Homo sapiens: one gene and its partner. The protein of the gene in region 2 interacts with the protein of the main gene of each other region in a pairwise test. Each region holds a gene or a part of one and is shown on either strand. Other genes may lie near its edges.

Evidence for each region. Proteins that work in one complex are often made in the same cells at the same time.
Region 1: the proteins of SPATA22 (region 2) and ATXN10 interact in binary tests that used the Homo sapiens proteins (3 or more experiments, as listed by UniProt).

The regions. Positions count from the first base shown.
Region 1 is NC_000022.11:45,737,834-45,741,333, forward strand, and holds part of ATXN10 (ataxin-10), read left to right. Parts: intron 1-897; coding exon 898-1,006; intron 1,007-2,535; coding exon 2,536-2,705; intron 2,706-3,500. UniProt on the Homo sapiens protein: May play a role in the regulation of cytokinesis. May play a role in signaling by stimulating protein glycosylation. Induces neuritogenesis by activating the Ras-MAP kinase pathway and is necessary for the survival of cerebellar neurons.
Region 2 is NC_000017.11:3,461,820-3,465,319, forward strand, and holds part of SPATA22 (spermatogenesis-associated protein 22), read right to left. Parts: intron 949-3,500; coding exon 888-948; intron 760-887; coding exon 664-759; intron 1-663. UniProt on the Homo sapiens protein: Meiosis-specific protein required for homologous recombination in meiosis I.

The DNA.
Region 1 (3,500 bases), on a different chromosome or scaffold from region 2:
GATTACAGGCACCCACCACCAAGCGTGGCTAATTTTTATATTTTTTTTTACTAGAGACGGGATTTCACCATATTGACCAGGCTGATCTTGAGCTCTTGACCTCAAGTGATCTTCTGGCCTCGGCCTCCCAATGTGAAGAATGTTATCTTTATGGACTAACTTTATAATCTCTGCCACATTTTGTCAAATGATGGGTACTTTAAAAATGGGGTTCAAAATCTATACAAAAGTTACATTTAAAATTTTTGTATAGACTACTTAATGCTATGCAGTTGGTACTGGGTAGTTTCTTGGTCATGCAGTGTATTTGATAAATTATTTAGTAGCTATGTGAAGTAGCATTTTCAAACAGTACTGTCTTTCTAATCTACCAAGATATTGCATAGAAGTTCATATTTACCCAGAAATTATGCAAGTTCTTAAAGCCAGAGTTTTTTCAACCACAGCATTTTACAGGATTTCTGTGGACAAGAAATTAATGTATTTTATGGGATATTTGTATCTTTAAAGTGGAATTTGCATGCTGGGAATGCTTTAAAAAGAAAGTATTTGCATAAATGTCATGTACATAGCTAGTAATTTTGAACATTTATTCCACTGTTGGAATGTCTTTTTGCTTGAATAAGAACTTTTCTGACTCTTTGCTCCAAGAAGACACATAATGACACATAATCTTGCATTCTTGATGGCAGATGTCTGCTGTTAGTGAAAATGATGAGTCGTGTACATATTTCATACTTCTGTTTTGTTCTTCATAGTTTTGTTTTTCTCTTTGACTTATTACAAGCACAGACTCTTTAAATTTATTGAAATATTTTATTCTCTTACAGTTATTTATAACAGTTAAATAATTTCTCTTAAAATATGCTAAAAAGTTATGTTTTCTTTTCTTTCTAGGAGGCACTGGCTACAATTAGGCTTCTCGACGTCCTGTGCGAAATGACTGTGAATACTGAGCTGCTCGGCTATCTGCAGGTTTTCCCTGGCTTGCTGGAAAGAGTGATTGGTGAGTGAAATATCACACATTGTATTTTTAGCTAAGAAATCTTTGGCTTGTCATACTGTAATATAAATCCAAATACAAATCCTTAATTTTCAGTGTACTTTGGGAATTTTGTGAATATATTTTTTTGAGAGGAATCACAGTGTTGTAACAGTTCAGGCAGGCCAGATAAACCTGAGCCCATGTGTTTGTTCAGCCACTTCCCTTCTGTTAACTGAAGATTCCTTCTCAGTAATGTGAGGATAACAATGCCTGTTATGCATATAGTAGATGTTTCATCAATATAGGATGTGATGAAGAAGGTGGGGCAGGCAGGTTTGCGATGATGATTGTGGTTTTATATTACTATAGCTTTGTAAAATGTGGCAGTAAATTTTTCCCATTTACATTTAGTGAACACATAGAATGGTGTTTTATACATATTATATATACAAATCTTATGAGAAAAAGGTTTTAAACAAGAAACCATTGTTAAAAGTATTACCAACCTTGCTAAAAAGCTGTTTGCAAAATAATTCAAGTAGAACCTGTTCCTTGTGGCTAGCCATGCTTAGGTTTGCTGTTCATTATTTGCAATTTTTTCCTTTAAAAAGATGATACTTACTCTGGAGACCAGTGTCCTGAGAAAGATGACTTTGTGTCTAGCAGTATAGATGAGCTAGCAGTCAGCTGTAGAGGAAGATCCTTAGAATTCCTCATCAGTGTTGTATTTTGAGTACATTGCTTTTAGTGATAATTTAAATAAAACACCACAAACCTAGCACACTTGAGTGATTATGGAAGGAGCCTGAGTTTGGAGCCAGGGTCGATGTGGGTTGCCATCCCAGCTCTGCCAGGTGCCAACTTTTCTGAGCCTGTTGTTTTCTTCATTATAAAATTGGGAAAGTGATACCTTCCTGTATAGGTTTGTTGAGAGGGTTAAATGAGATAATGTGGAAACACTGAAATGCAGTTCCTGGAAGATTGTCTGTTTTCATTGGCTGCCTGGAGGTGCTCATAGAGTAGAGCAGTGGTAAGTTCTTTCTCCTGAATGTAGCTGGAGTGAAGTATAGAGAACATATGCTGGCTTCTGATGATTTGGCCAGTTGGATGAGGGAAAAATAAGCACTCTTCTTGGTTTCTGTCATATGCATCATTATGGATAGATATTGTGTTTTAGACTTCATTGACTGAAGTTATTAGAAAAGTTCTTTCATAAAGAAGTTGAGATTGGAAACCTTTTTGTAAGAAGGATGCTAGCAAACTTTTAGCTAACTTTTTTTGTAGATAAATAGAAACTCTGAGTTGGGGTAGTCATTATGGCTTATCTCCCCAAAACTAGAGTCAAAAAATTTAAAGCAAAGGCAGAAGAGCCTTCTAATCATTTTTTGAAGCAAAGGCAGAAGAGCCTTGTAATCATTATTTAAATAAAGCTTTCTGTGCTCTACCTTTAGCCTATTACAATAAATTAGATTTGTCTATGGAAAACTATTAGTACAACATACTAAAAGTTACTTTTCTGTGGAAAATGAAGTTTACTCTTTTGGTTATAGATCTTTTGCGGGTGATTCATGTAGCTGGAAAAGAAACCACAAACATCTTCAGTAATTGTGGTTGCGTGAGAGCAGAAGGTGACATCTCCAATGTGGCCAATGGGTTTAAGTCTCATCTCATTCGTCTGATTGGAAATCTGTGTTACAAGAATAAAGATAACCAAGACAAGGTAAGAGGATTTCTTAGTATGTATTATACATGTATGGCTTCATTTAGAATATAGTCCTTGGAAGACATTCACTCTTTTGGAGTGAAAGCTTGAGGTGCTTAGAAAGTAGCTTGGATAGAGAGATATATATTTTATATGAATACACACACACACACACACACACACACACACACACACACACATATATATACACACACACACGTGTGTGTGTGTGTGTATATATATATATGTATATGTTAATATATAGGCTCTTTGGAGCCTAGACAAATTTCTAACACACAGTAGATATTTAATAAACACTAGTTATTATTGCCTATTATCTTAAAAAACAAAGCTTAGATCTATATCCTATGTTTATGGACGATAGCATCATAAGCCTTTTCTTCTAGATGTTTTAAAATGGATATAAAAGGAATATAATATTTAAGTATGAAGTCTTTGAGGACCTAGTAGGCTGCTTTTAGAAACCTCTTATGTGCAGAAGAGCTTAAAGGTAGTTATATTGAGAATGTGAGAGAATGGTAAGAAAGATCTCAGGGCAGTTGGACCACATGCTTCAGATTGATCTCGCCTTTCTGTATTTTTCTGGAGTTTTACTTCGGGTGGCATTTGATTTGCTTAGTTAAATATTAATTAAATTTCTGCCAGATTATATTTTTCTAAGATGGTGGCAGAATGTCTTGCATTGTACATGTGTGTCTGCAGTATGACTTTGCCACTCCCCTGTCGAGGGTTGGCATCTATTTCTCCATCCACTTGAATCTGGGCAGGCCCTGTGGCTGCTGTGAGCAATCA
Region 2 (3,500 bases):
TCCCAGCACTTTGTTTCCAAAATCATTTCCTTCTATATTGCCATTTATCCAAGGCTACTAAAATCCAACCAAGAGAAATCCATGTTCTTTTTCTATCAATTTTTTCATACTATTTAAACATTAAGCTTTGGTCCTTATGGCAAGAACCCTCACCATCTTTTTGACCAGCTTCTTCATTTCTTGAGCCCCTACTATTGCAGATGCATATGCATCACAGCCTCCATTTTTCTTTCTTCTGCCATTCCGTTTACCTTGAAGCCGGCTGTCTTACAGGATAAGACTGAGCACTCTAATTGGTTCTCAAGTCCTAAATATAATCAATACTAAGATATGATTCCTGTCTATTGTCAATTAAATCATTAATAACCCATAAGCAAAATCATAAATTCATAGCAATGAATATTGGCAGAAATTTCATTGTCATATTAAGAATCTTTTGAAGCATAATCACTGTGAAATTTACATATTTTTTAAGTTTTACATGCATGTTCTCTTAAGCTCTTTCATAAAACATAATTAATACTGCCATAGTTGTTATTTATAGAAATTTCCTAAATGTAATTCTGTCTGAGAAACAACGAAGTGAAGGAGGAGGGAAGAATGAAGAGGAAGACAGGAAAATGAGAAGGAATAGAAGAAGAAAGAAATTTTAAGTAGACTCACCTCCAACCACCCTGGCTTCTTCCAGTATTTGATTGAATAGAGTTAAAGACAGAATCTTGACTTCTCAGAGGACGAGAAACTGAATGTGGTATTTGCCTTTCAAGGGAATATGTCTTGTTAAATATTAATAGTTTGCTTTCAAATTGAGAAATTAAGATATACGTAGAAGAACAACATCAGTTAGTAACAGACACACATCCAATGGTTTATATTTCTCCACATACCCGGTGTCCACTGTTTTCATTACAGGAGCCAACTCTGGATTCACAGCTTCCCAGGCCCAATCTCAAAAGATATAAGTAACATAGATAAAAGTAAGATAGGTAGTATTTTTCAAAATGATAAATTCATACTTATTTAATTTGGAGGGTTTAAAAACTTGAAGAAGAAAAAACTTGAATATATGGATTTCTTCAACAGTACTTGTTGGAAAACCTGTCACAGCCTGCTTTATTAATTTTTATAGATGTCTTTCTTATCCATTGTATTTTAAGCAAAGATAATTTAATCTGTATCTTTTCTACAATCAGTTCTAGTATAGTATCTTTAACTTTGTAACATGAATTTCATCTAATCCAATGTTTACTGAACTTTTAAAATCTCACCCACAGAAAGAAATACATCATAACTCAGAACATATACATGCATGATATATGTGTGAGACAGAGATAGAGAGGAGAAAAAAGAATATAAAACTTCATCAAATCTTATCCTTAATATGTGTGATACACACTGACACAGTCATGTGTCACTTAATGACAGGGATACAGTCTAAGAAATGCATTGTTAGGTGAGTTTGTTGTGCAAACAACATAGAGTGTACTTACACAAAGCTGGAGAGTACAGCTTGCTACACACCTAGGCTATATGTTACAGCCTATTGTTCCTAGGCTACAAACTTGTGCAACATGTTACTGTACTCAATACCACAGGCAATTGTAACATAATAGTATTTGTGTATCTAAACATATCTAAACATAGAAAAGGTACAGTAAAAATATAATATAAAAGATAAAAACCAATACACCTAAGAGGGCACTTACCATAAATGGAGCTTGCAGGACTGAAAGTTGCTTTGGGTGAGTTAGTGATTAAGTGGTGAGTGAATACGAAGGCCTAGGACATTACTGTATACACTACTGTACACTAAACACACCATACATTTAGGCTACATTTATAAAAAAAAATAAACTGTGCTATGACATTATGACAGCTACTATGTCACCAGGAGACAGAAATGTTTCAGCTCCATTATATTTGTAATGGCACCACCATCACACAGGTGGTGTGATTGACCAAAACATGGTTATGCAGTGCATGGCTGTATTTTCTATTCTACTCTATTCTCTTCTATTTCTTTTTTCAAAGATCGATTATACCTCAGACTGATTAATGGATCAAGACAAACATTTTAAAAAAACACTGATCCTCTCCCTCTCCCTCTCCCTCTCCCTCTCCCTCTCCCTCTGCCTCTCCCTCTGCCTCTCCCTCTCCCTCTCCCCACGGTCTCCCTCTCCCTCTGTTTCCACGGTCTCCCTCTCATGCCAAGCCGAAGCTGGACTGTACTGCTGCCATCTCGGCTCACTGCAACCTCCCTGCCTGATTCTCCTGCCTCACCCTGCCGAGTGCCTGCGATTGCAGGCGCGCGCCGCCACGCCTGACTGGTTTTCGTATTTTTTTGGTGGAGACGGGTTTCGCTGTGTTGGCCGGGCTGGTCTCCAGCTCCTAACCGCGAGTGATCCGCCAGCCTCGGCCTCCGGAGGTGCCGGGATTGCAGACGGTGTCTGGTTCACTCAGTGCTCAATGGTGCCCAGGCTGGAGTGCAGTGGCGTGATCTCGGCTCGCTACAACCTCCACCTCCCAGCCGCCTGCCTTGGCCTCCCAAAGTGCCCAGAGTGCAGCCTCTGCCCGGCCGCCACCCCGTCTGGGAAGTGAGGAGCGTCTCTGCCTGGCCGCCCATCGTCTGGGATGTGAGGAGCCCCTCTGCCTGGCTGCCCAGTCTGGAAAGTGAGGAGTGTCTCTGCCCGGCCGCCGTCCCATCTAGGAAGTGAGAAGCGCCTCTTCCCGGCCGCCATCCCATCTAGGAAGTGAGGAGCGTCTCTGCCGGGCCGCCCATCGTCTGAGATGTGGGGAGCACCTTTGCCCCGCCGCCCCATCTGGGATGTGAGGAGCGCCTCTGCCCGGCCGCGACCCCGTCTGGGAGGTGAGGAGCGTCTCTGCCCAGCCGCCCCATCTGAGAAGGGAGGAGACCCTCCGCCCGGCAACCGCCCCGTCTGAGAAGTGAGGAGCCCCTCCGCCCGGCAGCCGCCCCGTCTGAGAAGTGAGGAGCCCCTCCGCCCGGCAGCCACCCCGTCTGGGAAGTGAGGAGCGTCTCCGCCCGGCAGCCACCCCGTCTGGGAGGGGGGTGGGGGGGGGTCAGCCCCCCACCCGGCCAGCCGCCCGGTCTGGGAGGTGAGGGGCGCCTCTGCCCAGCCGCCCCTACTGGGAAGTGAGGAGCCCCTCTGCCCGGCCAGCCGCTCCGTCCGGGAGGGAGGTGGGGGGGTCAGCCCCCAGCCCGGCCAGCCGCCCCGTCCGGGAGGGAGGTGGGGGGTCAGCCCCTCCACCCGGCAGCCACCCCGTCTGGGAAGTGAGGAGCGTCTCCGCCCGGCAGCCACCCCGTCCGGGAGGGAGGTGGGGGGGTCAGCCCCCCGCCCGGCCAGCCGCCTCGTCCAGGAGGTGAGGGGCGCCTCTGCCCGGCCGCCCCTACTGGGAAGTGAGGAGCCCCTCTGCCCGGCCACCACCCCGTCTGGGAGGTGTGCCCAACAGCTCATTGAGAACGGGCCATGATGACAATGGCG